Linked DNA regions of Homo sapiens: regions 2, 3 and 4 are each linked to region 1. Evidence: fine-mapped expression QTL. A gene starts in region 1. Each other region holds a variant in brackets. All regions are shown on one strand. Distances are from middle to middle. Region 1 holds the start of GAPT (GRB2 binding adaptor protein, transmembrane). Region 2 has its middle 160 kb from the start of LINC02101. Region 3 overlaps RAB3C (RAB3C, member RAS oncogene family). Region 4 holds the start of PLK2 (polo like kinase 2).

Region 1 (2,688 bases):
TATTGAGGTTGAGAACTGTATGGTCCGCCACATAAGATTTACAATCTGCAGGGTCCCTCCTTTATAAGGCCAGCCGTGCTTGTGTTCAAGGACAAAAGTTTAGCCAAATGACTTTAATCATTAGGACCTCATTTCCTGTCTGAAACAGATGAGCACCAATTATCTGCAAGATATTTTATGGTATACATGGTTAATGATTTAAGAAGTTATTTGCCAGAATATTTGAAATAAATTTACAAAATACACTTTAAGTATTGATTGAAATTAATCAACTTTTTGAAAGATACTAGGCCTGCAACAGAAGTCACGGTGAGGGTTGAGGAAGGCTAACTATTGTCACTTCTGTAGCTGAGGATAAGGCAATAAATTACTCTCTTAATTTTTAAGAAGAAAAGGCATTTTTACCATCTATGTTATTCTATGTAGAGTAGAAATTCTGGTACATCCAAAATATTAAAATTGTTTGTCTAAGAGATATTTACCAAGATAAAGACAAGAAGACTTTTTACAGAAAAAGAAATGCATCATTTTCTTCGAAATAACATTAGAGGAAAAAACCTGTGAGACATGAACAAAGACCTACTATAATGAAAAACATATTTTAAACAATAACCATTCAAATATAGTTTAACACTTAAATAATGTTCACTTTGACCAGTTTGAAAGAAGACTCTGTTTTCATTTTGGAAAGCAGTTCCAACAGGTTACCTAACAATTTGACATTTTTCTTAAAATCGCAAATTGTTGAGAAACTTCAGGAATTTTCAAGTAAGAGAATGCCCTGCTGTTTGGAAACAAGGTAACAGCAAAGCATAATCATATTGTAAAGAAACATTAACATCACTCTCAGTTTGTAAATTGGGTTTCCCCCTTACAGCTACGTAAGGCATTTTTTTCTAAAAACTGTAGTAAGATAAAAATCATTGATTAATTAAAGACAAACTTGTTTCTTATAGTGTTTAATCATCCAAATACCTTAAATCAGGTTCTTACTTACCTCAAGATTGGTGTGTCAAGCTCTCTCTTTTGTTCTTTTGGTTATGTTTTAAACCTGCATTGGGTTAGAACTTGTTCCTCTTTTTCACTTTGGTGGGTTACTTCCTTCTTTCCCTCCTTCGTTCACGCTATTTAATACTTGCAAAGTTTCCTGGCTCTAGAGGAAGTCAGTATCAGATGCAGCAGAATTAAGATAAATGGCGTGAGGTTTTGAATAAGGAAGTCTGGCCCTTCATCTTTGTCAAGTAATAGTTTTTTAACTGTGTCAGAAAATAATACGTAAAGCCTACATGGTTTTTTATTTGGGCCATATTTGCAGTTCCCACTTTAATATCAATAAAAGTCACTTCACTTGTACTTTGATTTTTTAAAAAAAGAAATATTTTAATTGTAGTAACACATAGGTCTTGGGCTTTTATTATTATTATTATTATTTACTTGTGTTGCTAGACCAGTCCTCTCTTCAAATATTAATATTATGTACCAATGCTCCCAAGTTATAGCCATACAGGTCAAATCAGTGTCCCAATTTGGGTTTGGAAAATGTTAACGTTCTTTTAAATTTATAAATAGGAATTTCCTAAGGTATGTTTTGAGGCCCATTACCCCTGAGATATGCTAGCAGCTCTTCCATCAAGTAAATGTGGGGAATACTGCTTCCCTGGAGATTCATGGGTACATCAGCATGCTAAAGGCTCTCAGCAGTCTTACAGCCAGCAAACAAAATAAAACCAAATAAGAAAAAGAAATTGTTTAACTTTGCTTAATAATAGTAGTCAGTATGTTCCTAGCACTAAGTACTCCAAACCTTTTGTGTAATACTCAGCAAATCTTGGCAACAACCCTGTGAGGGAGAAAAACTGTTATTAGTCCTATTTTACAGAAGAGGAAACAGAAGCACACAGAATGATCACTTGCCCGACAGAGCCTGCAGTTTGCCCCCAGCACCTGTGTGCTAAACCACTGCACTGGCTGCCTTGCTAGATTGAGTAACATGTTTCCCACATAGATACGCTTACCAAGAGCATCTCTTGGAGTCCAACTCATGGGAACACACACAGTGGGAGATGCTGAATTAGACAAATTACAGATGAATTCGACAGATGAGATGACAAAGTAATGGAAAATTTGTCTTTTAAGTTGTCTTGGAACTTTTTGAACCACAGAGGATTAACTTTGCATAAGGTGGTTTTAAAAAAGAGGATTTAGTTACTGAAATAACTACTGGACATTGGAAGGACAGGACGTATTATTAACACTTGCTGAGCACTGACATTATGCCAGGCATTGTGCTAAGAGATGAGGATGCAAGAGTGAATAAGCTCCCTGCAGCACTTAAAGCCAAGTAGAGAGGCTGCTGCGCCCACAGAACATTTCAGATCAAAGTGATAATGCCTAAGAAAGACAGGATTATGGACAGGGACAGTGGAGGTAAAGGAAAGAGGCATCCAGCTCAGAGGGTGGTCAGGGAAGGCAAGACCTGAGCTAAGCCTCATAGAATAAGGTGTTAAGGCAGAATAGGGGTGTCCTGGACAAAAATCTTACAGTGAAGGAGGTTATGAAGTTGTGAAGCTATGAACTTGATGTGCTCCACATTCTCACCACTATATTTAACTTCAGTATTAGCCACCCCTCCAAATAATATACACACTCACCTGCCTAGGCATACATCTGTAAGAAAGGCAATTTATA
Region 2 (2,688 bases), 200 kb after region 1:
TGTGCCCTGCCCCCAGTGGTGGAGCCTACAGAGTCAGGCAGGCCTCCTTGAGCTGTGGTGGGCTCCACCCAGTTCGAGCTTCCCAGCTGCTTTGTTTACCTAAGCAAGCCTGGGCAATGGCGGGCACCCCTCCCCCCAGCCTGGCTGCCGCCTTGCAGTTTGATCTCAGACTGCTGTGCTAGCATTCAGCGAGAGTCCGTGGGGGTAGGACCCTCCAAGCCAGGTGTGGGATATAATCTCCTGGTGCCGTTTTTTAAGCCCGTCGGAAAAGCGCAGTATTTGGGTGGGAGTGACCCGATTTTCCATGTGCTGTCTGTCACCACTTTCTTTGACTAGGAAAGGGAACTCCCTGACCCCTTGCGCTTCCCGAGTGAGGCAATGCCTCGCCCTGCTTCGGCTCATGCACAGTGCACGCACCTACTGGCCTGCGCCCACTGTCTGGCACTCTCTAGTGAGATGAACCTGGTACCTCAGATGGAAATGCAGAAATCACCCGTCTTCTGCATCACTCACGCTGGGATCTGTAGACTGGAGCTGTTCCTATTCCGGCATATTCTATTTCAAACACTGAATAAATGTTACTAGAGATTTTTAAGCAAATGCATTTTAGCTGCAAGGTATAGCAGAGACAAACTGCATGGACAGTTGACAGAAAAAAATGTTTGAAAGAAATAATAGTCTAGACAAAGAAGACGTTAGAAATTTGAAGGAAATCAGTGAAATTAAAGCCAATGAGATTAACTGGGAATGATGTGTGAACAGACTTGACTGCTGTTCTTTGTAGTTTCAGATCGTAGTAACAGAGGTAGCCAGCTTTAGCAGAGAAATTGATTAGTAAATTGTATGTACCAATTACTACTTATTTCCTTTTGCTACATATATGAAAACCTCAAAGAGATAAAGAAACAACCAAACAAGATTATATTAACAATGCCAAGAAATGTGACACTTTATTTTTTAGGCAAGAGGGAGCCATTAAATGTTTTTAAACAAGAGAGTGACATGATCTTTGTCGTACTTTAGTATAGAATTATTTGAAATGGTGTATACGATGCATTGAATGGAGGATATTCTGGATGGGCAGTTCAATTAGGGAATTGTTGCAATGATTCAGGCATGAGGTAATGAGGGCCTGCATGAAAATATTTAGCAGAATAAATGGAAAAGGGAGGATTATGTAGAAGGAGAAGTGACCAAATATGAACATAGATGTAAGGAAGTGAGTTTAGGGGTAAGAAAGAGGCCAAAAATATTTCTGGGATACTTTAGTCCCTATAGTGAGAATAATGATGCAATGAAAATAAAGGAAATTGCAAATGGGAGGTGGGAAGATTGGTGAGATGGTGGACTCA[T/C]TGTAAACCAGCTGCATCTGAGAGGTTGGCAATGTATGTTATCAATGCAACAGTTGGAAGTTTTGATGTGGAATTTGAAAAAGGATTTGGAAGTATAGATGTCAACCTGAGAATTATATGCCTAGAAGTAATATGTTAACCCATAAGTGCTGTTGAAAGCACCAAAGAAATGAATATTATGCAGAAAAAGAATGAAGTAAGAGTGGAAGAAAAATCTTTGGAGAATTCTTATCAGTTGAGAACATGAGAAAAAACAGATGCAAAGAGCTTACATTCCATTTTAAGCTTTAAAAGTACTTCCTCATGCATTTCCTAATTTGACCAACAAGATAACCCAGAGAGGGCAAATGGTAGTAACCCTGAGAAAAGAATGCCTAGATATGTCAAGTGACTTGACTAGGGTCACCCAGTAAGTGGTAAATAGAATCAAAACAAAAGTCCAGGCCTCTTGTCTCTTCAGCCGAGCACACCATGCTGCCTTCACAAGCCAGCATACCTCAAAGAGGCTCTTAAAATGAGAATTCCTGGGCCCTCAGGAGTCTGCAAGCTGTAAGTCTGAATAAAGAAGGCCTGAAGAGGGAGGAGAGGCCAAAGAGGCAGAGCTCCATGCGATTTCAGGAACATTACCTTGCTTACACACCAAACTTTAACCTCATACTTCATTTGCACATGGCGTTCCCCTAGCCAAAACCAGAGCAAAAATCACAGGCTCAAACATTCCTTGATGCCCTTGAGCTATTTCTAAGAGGAACCCACCCTCTCAATAGGATTGAAATGATTCTATAAAAACTTCTTATATTTTACTAAAGAAATCGTACACATTAATAAAAAAAGGAAGTGGGGGGCATTTTGTATATCATTTTTATCTCTTGTGTTGTGCTGTTCTAAAACAGTCTATGGGAGATAGCCTCAAGCCTGAGGGGCAGGATATCAATATTATATTATTCTAAAGAGGGCATAGCATGACATCTTAAGAGTTGAAAGGAGTTACTTTGCTTCTTTTGGCATATAACTTACAGAACATGGCCTCAATATTGAAGCAGAAAGGATCCTTGGATACCGACATCATGCATCCCAAAAAGATTTTCAATAGGATAACAAAACATACGCATACATAGAAATATTAGGTCACTTCCCTGGAATGCATGAGATGCATTTTGAGTTTTGCCAAGTGATATGTTTAGGCTTTGTGTCCCCACCCAAATCTCATCTTGAATTGTAATCCCCATAATCTCCTCATGTCTAGAGAGGGACCTGGTGGAAGGAGATTGGATCATTGAGGCAGTTTCCCCCATGCTGTTCTCATGATAGTTAGTGAGTGAGTTCTCTTGAGGTC
Region 3 (2,688 bases), 140 kb before region 1:
AGAGTCAGGGAGGTGTGACCTGAGGTGGTGATGGTGGGGCACTCTGATTTAGTAGTTTTATATTAACAGGGGAAAGTTTCAAAGTGGCAAAACACAACTTTCTGAGATTGGATGTTGAATTTTTTCTTGGTCTAAGCCACAAATAATAACAAGAACTAATATTTCTTGAGTCTTACCATTTATGAGGTTCTGTGTTAAATGAATTGCATGTTTTATCCTGATTATTCCTCATAACCATACTATAAGGGAGATATTCTAATATGCCCATTATACAGATAAAGAAACTAGAATTGAGAGAAGTTAGGAAGCCTCTAGAATGGAGCTGATTCAGCATTTGAACCCAGACAGTTTGACATCAGGGCCTGTGCTCCTAACCAGAATGCTACACTTGCTTCTGGAAGGCAGAGTTCTCCCAAGTGATCTTATTTCCCTGTATAATATTTCTTTAAACTTTTCAATGGTGTGAATAAATATCCCTCAACCTGAACTCCTGAAATAATGGGAAAGAAGAACAGTGATGATTGTGAGAACTAAAAATATCTAAATAAAATTTAGGAGTACAAACAAACAATTTTTTTTTTTTTTTGAGATGGAGTCTTGCTCTGTTGCCCAAGCTGGAGTGCAGTGGCGCAATCTCAGCTCACTGCAAGCTCTGCCTCCTGGGTTGACGCCATTCTCCTGCCTCAGCCTCCTGAGTAGCTGGGACTACAGGCACCAGCCACCATGCCCGGCTAATTTTTTTTTTTTTTGTATTTTTTAGTAGAGATGGGGTTTCACCGTGTTAACCAGGATGGTCTCAATCTCTGGACCTCATGATCCGCCCACCTCGGCCTCCCAAAGTGCTGGGATTATAGGCGTGAGCCACCACACGTGGCCCAAACAAACAAATTTAACAAGTAAATATGTATAGGGTAAACGAGCATGATCATAACTCTGTTAGATATTACTATACCCATTCATTAATTCAATATGTACTGAGATCTCCTGTGGGCCAATAATGCTAGATGCTGAGACTCCTGAATTAAATAATGTCCAGCCCATAACCCTTAGGAGCCCATATAACTTAGTGGAAGAGGCAGTTAAGAAAAATCAAAATCTGAACGATAGATTATTCATGTATCTCTTAATAATATGACTTTTATTCAGATATGGAAAGTTTTAACTGTTGGTCTCATCTCAATTTTTTTCTCTTCTCTACCTGGAGAGAATGTCCATATTAAATGTTTTTCCTGGCACTATTTACTAATGAATCCTTATCACACAAA[T/A]ACACAAGTTATGTTAGAGTTACGGCAGATTCCCTGTGGGCTAGATGTCTTTACGTTTGTGCCTCCCCCTCTACTTTCCTTCCTATAGTCTAGTTTTAAGAGACTTTATGGGCTCTTTCCATAAGATCTGCCATCTCTAAAGGGGCTTACCCCATGGATGGAGTCTGCCAGAGATGTGTCTGTAGGTTCTTCTGCCCTCATTCTAAAAGATGTTGTAGAGCAATGGTTTTCCAGGATGAGCCCTCTCTGCCTTCCTCTAGGTAAGGGGTTGGGAAGTTGAAGAAATGAAACCGTATGCTTCCTAGCCTGCTGAAAACAGGTCAGTTCCCTCTAGTCATTGGAATTTTCCATATGCCTTCCTTTAAAGACATGACTCCATGACATAAAAAGAAATTTGCAAATCACTGTGGGAAATGCCAAAAAGCTTAAGGAGACAAACATCTCTTTGGTTGAGACAGAGATAGTATTAGAACCTCCCATTTTGCTTCATGTCCAGTTCAGAGACTAGAATAGAAAACTGAGATGAAGGTGAATGGAGAGAAAATGCTTCTAAACTTCAATAGCTAAGAATGTAGTGAATAGGAGGAAAGAGAAAGAATCCAAAGCAAAGTTAGCAATCAGACAGAAGTGGGACTGTATTCAGTCATGGAGAGAGGGAAGGGGATGGTAATAGGCTGGTAGGGAAAGAAGAGAAGGGGATGAAAGAGCAAGTAGAACCATTGTCAAATACAGTATGTCAGAAGCTCTTAAGCTTTGATGCTATTCTCCAGGCACATATACCCTCTGTCCACAGCCACTCGAAGAATAGGCCTACAGCCTGCTGCCATATTTGGGCCAATCTAAGACTGTTATCTGGCTACAGAAAACAGAAGGAGGTCTGAGAAAAAGACCTTGGTCTGCCCCTTCCCCGATCCATCATCAATGTTTATAGACTGAAGTAGACCTCCCTTCAGCCCTCCGTGAACAGACACAATATGACAGGATGAACTGTTTCTCAGAATGGCAGTTATCACCTGGGAAGTTTATTAGAAATCCATATTCCCTGCTTCTGTTTACAGAGAGATATGAATTCAGTAGGCTTGACATGGGGTTCAAAATCTACAGTTATAACAAATTCCCCAAGTGATTCCGACAAGGGACTGACTCTGGGACCACACTTTGAGGTCTGTAGAGACCATGGTTCCTATGTTAAAATTATTGACCAGACACTCCTCTGGGAGACAATGGTTCTGATAAACCCCAGCGTAAAAAACTGTTCACCCAGGCTTCTAGTTTCTACAGCCTTCTTTGTCTGGTTGCTTTCATATGTGAATCTCTCTCATATTGTGAGATCAGGCCATCTGCAAACTTGAGTGCCTCCCAACTGTAGAATCACTTTCATGTGTCACCATCAAGGCCAGGCTGAAAGGTCTCAGCAGATCTG
Region 4 (2,657 bases), 31 kb after region 1:
TTGAGAACCAGCAGACCCAGGAAATGCTCTAAAAATGGCATATTACCCTTTCGTAAGGGAAACGTACATTCACTAAAAAAAAAAACAACAAAAACAAAAAACAAAAAAACCCCACAAAACTCCATTTGTAAAAGTGTCTCCTCTGTACCAGGAAGAATGACTCTAAATCATGAAAAACTTATCAATGAAGAAATAAGAAACCCCACTCCTGTTTACCGTACATTTCCTGGTCATGATTCCTTAACTTGCCTGCCCCACTCTTTTCTTTTGGTTTAGCTAAAGATAGTATTTAAGCCCGATTTTAAACCATCTCTAATTTTCCTGGTTATCTCCCATGTATATATGAGACGTATATGTTAATAAGCTTCTTTGTTTTCTTGTTAATCTGTCTGGTTACAGCGACCCAGGCCAAAACTTTGAAAGGTGGAAAATTATTTTTCCTTCCTTACAATATTTCTCTCAGAATTGTTGTAGGATGAAATAAGGCATTTAAAAATACTGCACAGTCCTCAATAAATGTTACTCTATCGTAATTAGAACAAGAAAAACAAACAAAAAAACGTGTTCCTAGATTAGTCAAACTGCACAGCAAAATCTGGAAATGGGAAACTAAGCTGTGTTTGCACTCACTGGCCTACGCTCCTCTCTTCATCCTACCAATCTCCCTACCCCAGAAAGTCTCAGATTGACTCTCCAGGAACCAGGGCAGCTCATGAGCCATCTCAACAGATGCATTCGGAAGAAGTCATAGATGACTCTGATTGGAAACTCACAATCGGCATCGATGTTTAGTACTAGTAACTGTCAAAGGCCCACGGTTGTCAACCGCTGCCCACTTCGACACCTAACGGCATTCCGGAACATTCCACAAGATGGCGCCCTTGCTTTCCAATCTTCGGGCTACGGGCGGAGGACGCCTTGCCAGGACGCCGACCTCGCTCTGCAAGGTTCAGGGGCCGACCTCAGACAGAGGCTCGCTCTAGGGGCATGGGCGGGGGCCAGACGGGCCTCGAGTGGGATCCTGGCACGGTTGGCCGATCGGCCCGGGATCCCGGCTGCGGGCCCGTGTCTGCCCTAGCGCGATGGGCTCGAATGCCCGGCTCCACGAATCCCGGCCTTTCACCCCCACGGCCTCTCGGCACTGCCCCAGCTAGACACCAGCGAGCTCGTCACAGCGCGGGCAGGCACTGCGGGGCAGCTGCAGACGAGCCCTGTCATACGGCCGGAGGAGGCCTCGCCTGCCCGTGCGGCGGGCTCCGGGCACCCTGATACCTTGACACAGGAGGCCCCGGGCGGCCGGGAAGGGCTGTGCGGGGGAGGGACTGCGTCTACACCCGCGCCCGACTCGCTCGGGTCACGGCACTGCCCTGCCACCAGGCGGCTGGGGCGGGGGTGAGGCCAGGCGTCGGCCCTCGCGATTCTGTTTTGTACGCTGAGGCTCGGAGCCTTCGAAGAACGGGACAGCGGGGCCCACGGACGGCTCTGAAGGCCTTCCCGCGGCCGCAAGAGATCTCGGCGGCCGGCGTTTGAGGCGCGCGGCTCCGCTGGGAAGCGAGACCCGGGTGGCGGGACAAGACTTGCTTCCCGGCCACGCGCGCTCGGCCGGCCGTGGGGCGGGGCATAGGCCGTGACGTG[A/G]TGTCGCGTATCGAGTCTCCGCCCCCTTCCCGCCTCCCCGTATATAAGACTTCGCCGAGCGCTCTCACTCGCACAAGTGGACCGGGGTGTTGGGTGCTAGTCGGCACCAGAGGCAAGGGTGCGAGGACCACGGCCGGCTCGGACGTGTGACCGCGCCTAGGGGGTGGCAGCGGGCAGTGCGGGGCGGCAAGGCGACCATGGAGCTTTTGCGGACTATCACCTACCAGCCAGCCGCCAGCACCAAAATGTGCGAGCAGGCGCTGGGCAAGGGTTGCGGAGCGGACTCGAAGAAGAAGCGGCCGCCGCAGCCCCCCGAGGAATCGCAGCCACCTCAGTCCCAGGCGCAAGTGCCCCCGGCGGCCCCTCACCACCATCACCACCATTCGCACTCGGGGCCGGAGATCTCGCGGATTATCGTCGACCCCACGACTGGGAAGCGCTACTGCCGGGGCAAAGTGCTGGGAAAGGTGACAAGCGGAGGGCGCCGGGCTGCCGGGCGGGCGGGAGGTCTGTCCGGGCGACCCCAAGCCGGGCAAGCCCGCGGGGTCCCTCGCCCGCCGCTTCCGGGTTTTTCGGGGGTCCGATCCCAGCGCGAGGTGGGCTCCTCACCTGCCCTCTGGCTTTTGTGCGCCGGCAGCGCTGGGGATCGGCTTTGCATTCTTAGCCTCAGAACTGTGTGTCTCCCGCAGCCCAGAGAAATGCATCTTGAGTCTGGAAGCGAGGGCTTTCTACATCAGACCTCTCTCCCTCTATCTGCTCCCAGGGAATTTTCCTGACAAGTCTCATCAGAGATTATTTTTCATGTCTCCCCGTTCCAACTCCCTCCATAAAGCTCCCCTTTATAAAAGAAGAAGAGAAACTGTTTGAACTTGCTGTTTCCAGCAATGCATTTCTCTTCATGAGGGAGCTTTAACGAAGTCGAATGCCTCCCTCTGTCCACCCTCCTCCATTCCTCAATTTTTTTTTTTTTGCTTTTCTTTCTTCCCATTTATTTATTTATTTAAAATATCTGCCGTCCATTT

Evidence for each region. PIP is the estimated chance that this variant, and not a neighbour inherited with it, causes the effect.
Region 2: its variant is fine-mapped to the expression of GAPT in whole blood (INTERVAL, PIP above 0.99).
Region 3: its variant is fine-mapped to the expression of GAPT in whole blood (TOPMed, PIP 0.95).
Region 4: its variant is fine-mapped to the expression of GAPT in whole blood (TOPMed, PIP above 0.99).

The regions. Positions count from the first base shown.
Region 1 is chr5:58,489,851-58,492,538 of GRCh38, reverse strand. GAPT (GRB2 binding adaptor protein, transmembrane) reads right to left here and starts at 1,104. Exons shown (of 3, transcript NM_001304431.2): 1 at 998-1,104.
Region 2 is chr5:58,285,929-58,288,616 of GRCh38, reverse strand. No RefSeq gene overlaps it. Among named protein-coding and RNA genes, the nearest start is that of LINC02101, 160 kb to the right of the region's middle. The variant T/C (reference allele first, on the strand shown) is at 1,353.
Region 3 is chr5:58,632,039-58,634,726 of GRCh38, reverse strand. The region is part of intron 2 of RAB3C (RAB3C, member RAS oncogene family); the gene reads right to left. Among named protein-coding and RNA genes, the nearest start is that of RAB3C, 50 kb to the right of the region's middle. The variant T/A (reference allele first, on the strand shown) is at 1,266.
Region 4 is chr5:58,459,135-58,461,791 of GRCh38, reverse strand. PLK2 (polo like kinase 2) reads left to right here and starts at 1,706. Exons shown (of 14, transcript NM_006622.4): 1 at 1,706-2,102. The coding sequence starts at 1,833. RefSeq lists a silencer at 1,209-1,388. The variant A/G (reference allele first, on the strand shown) is at 1,636.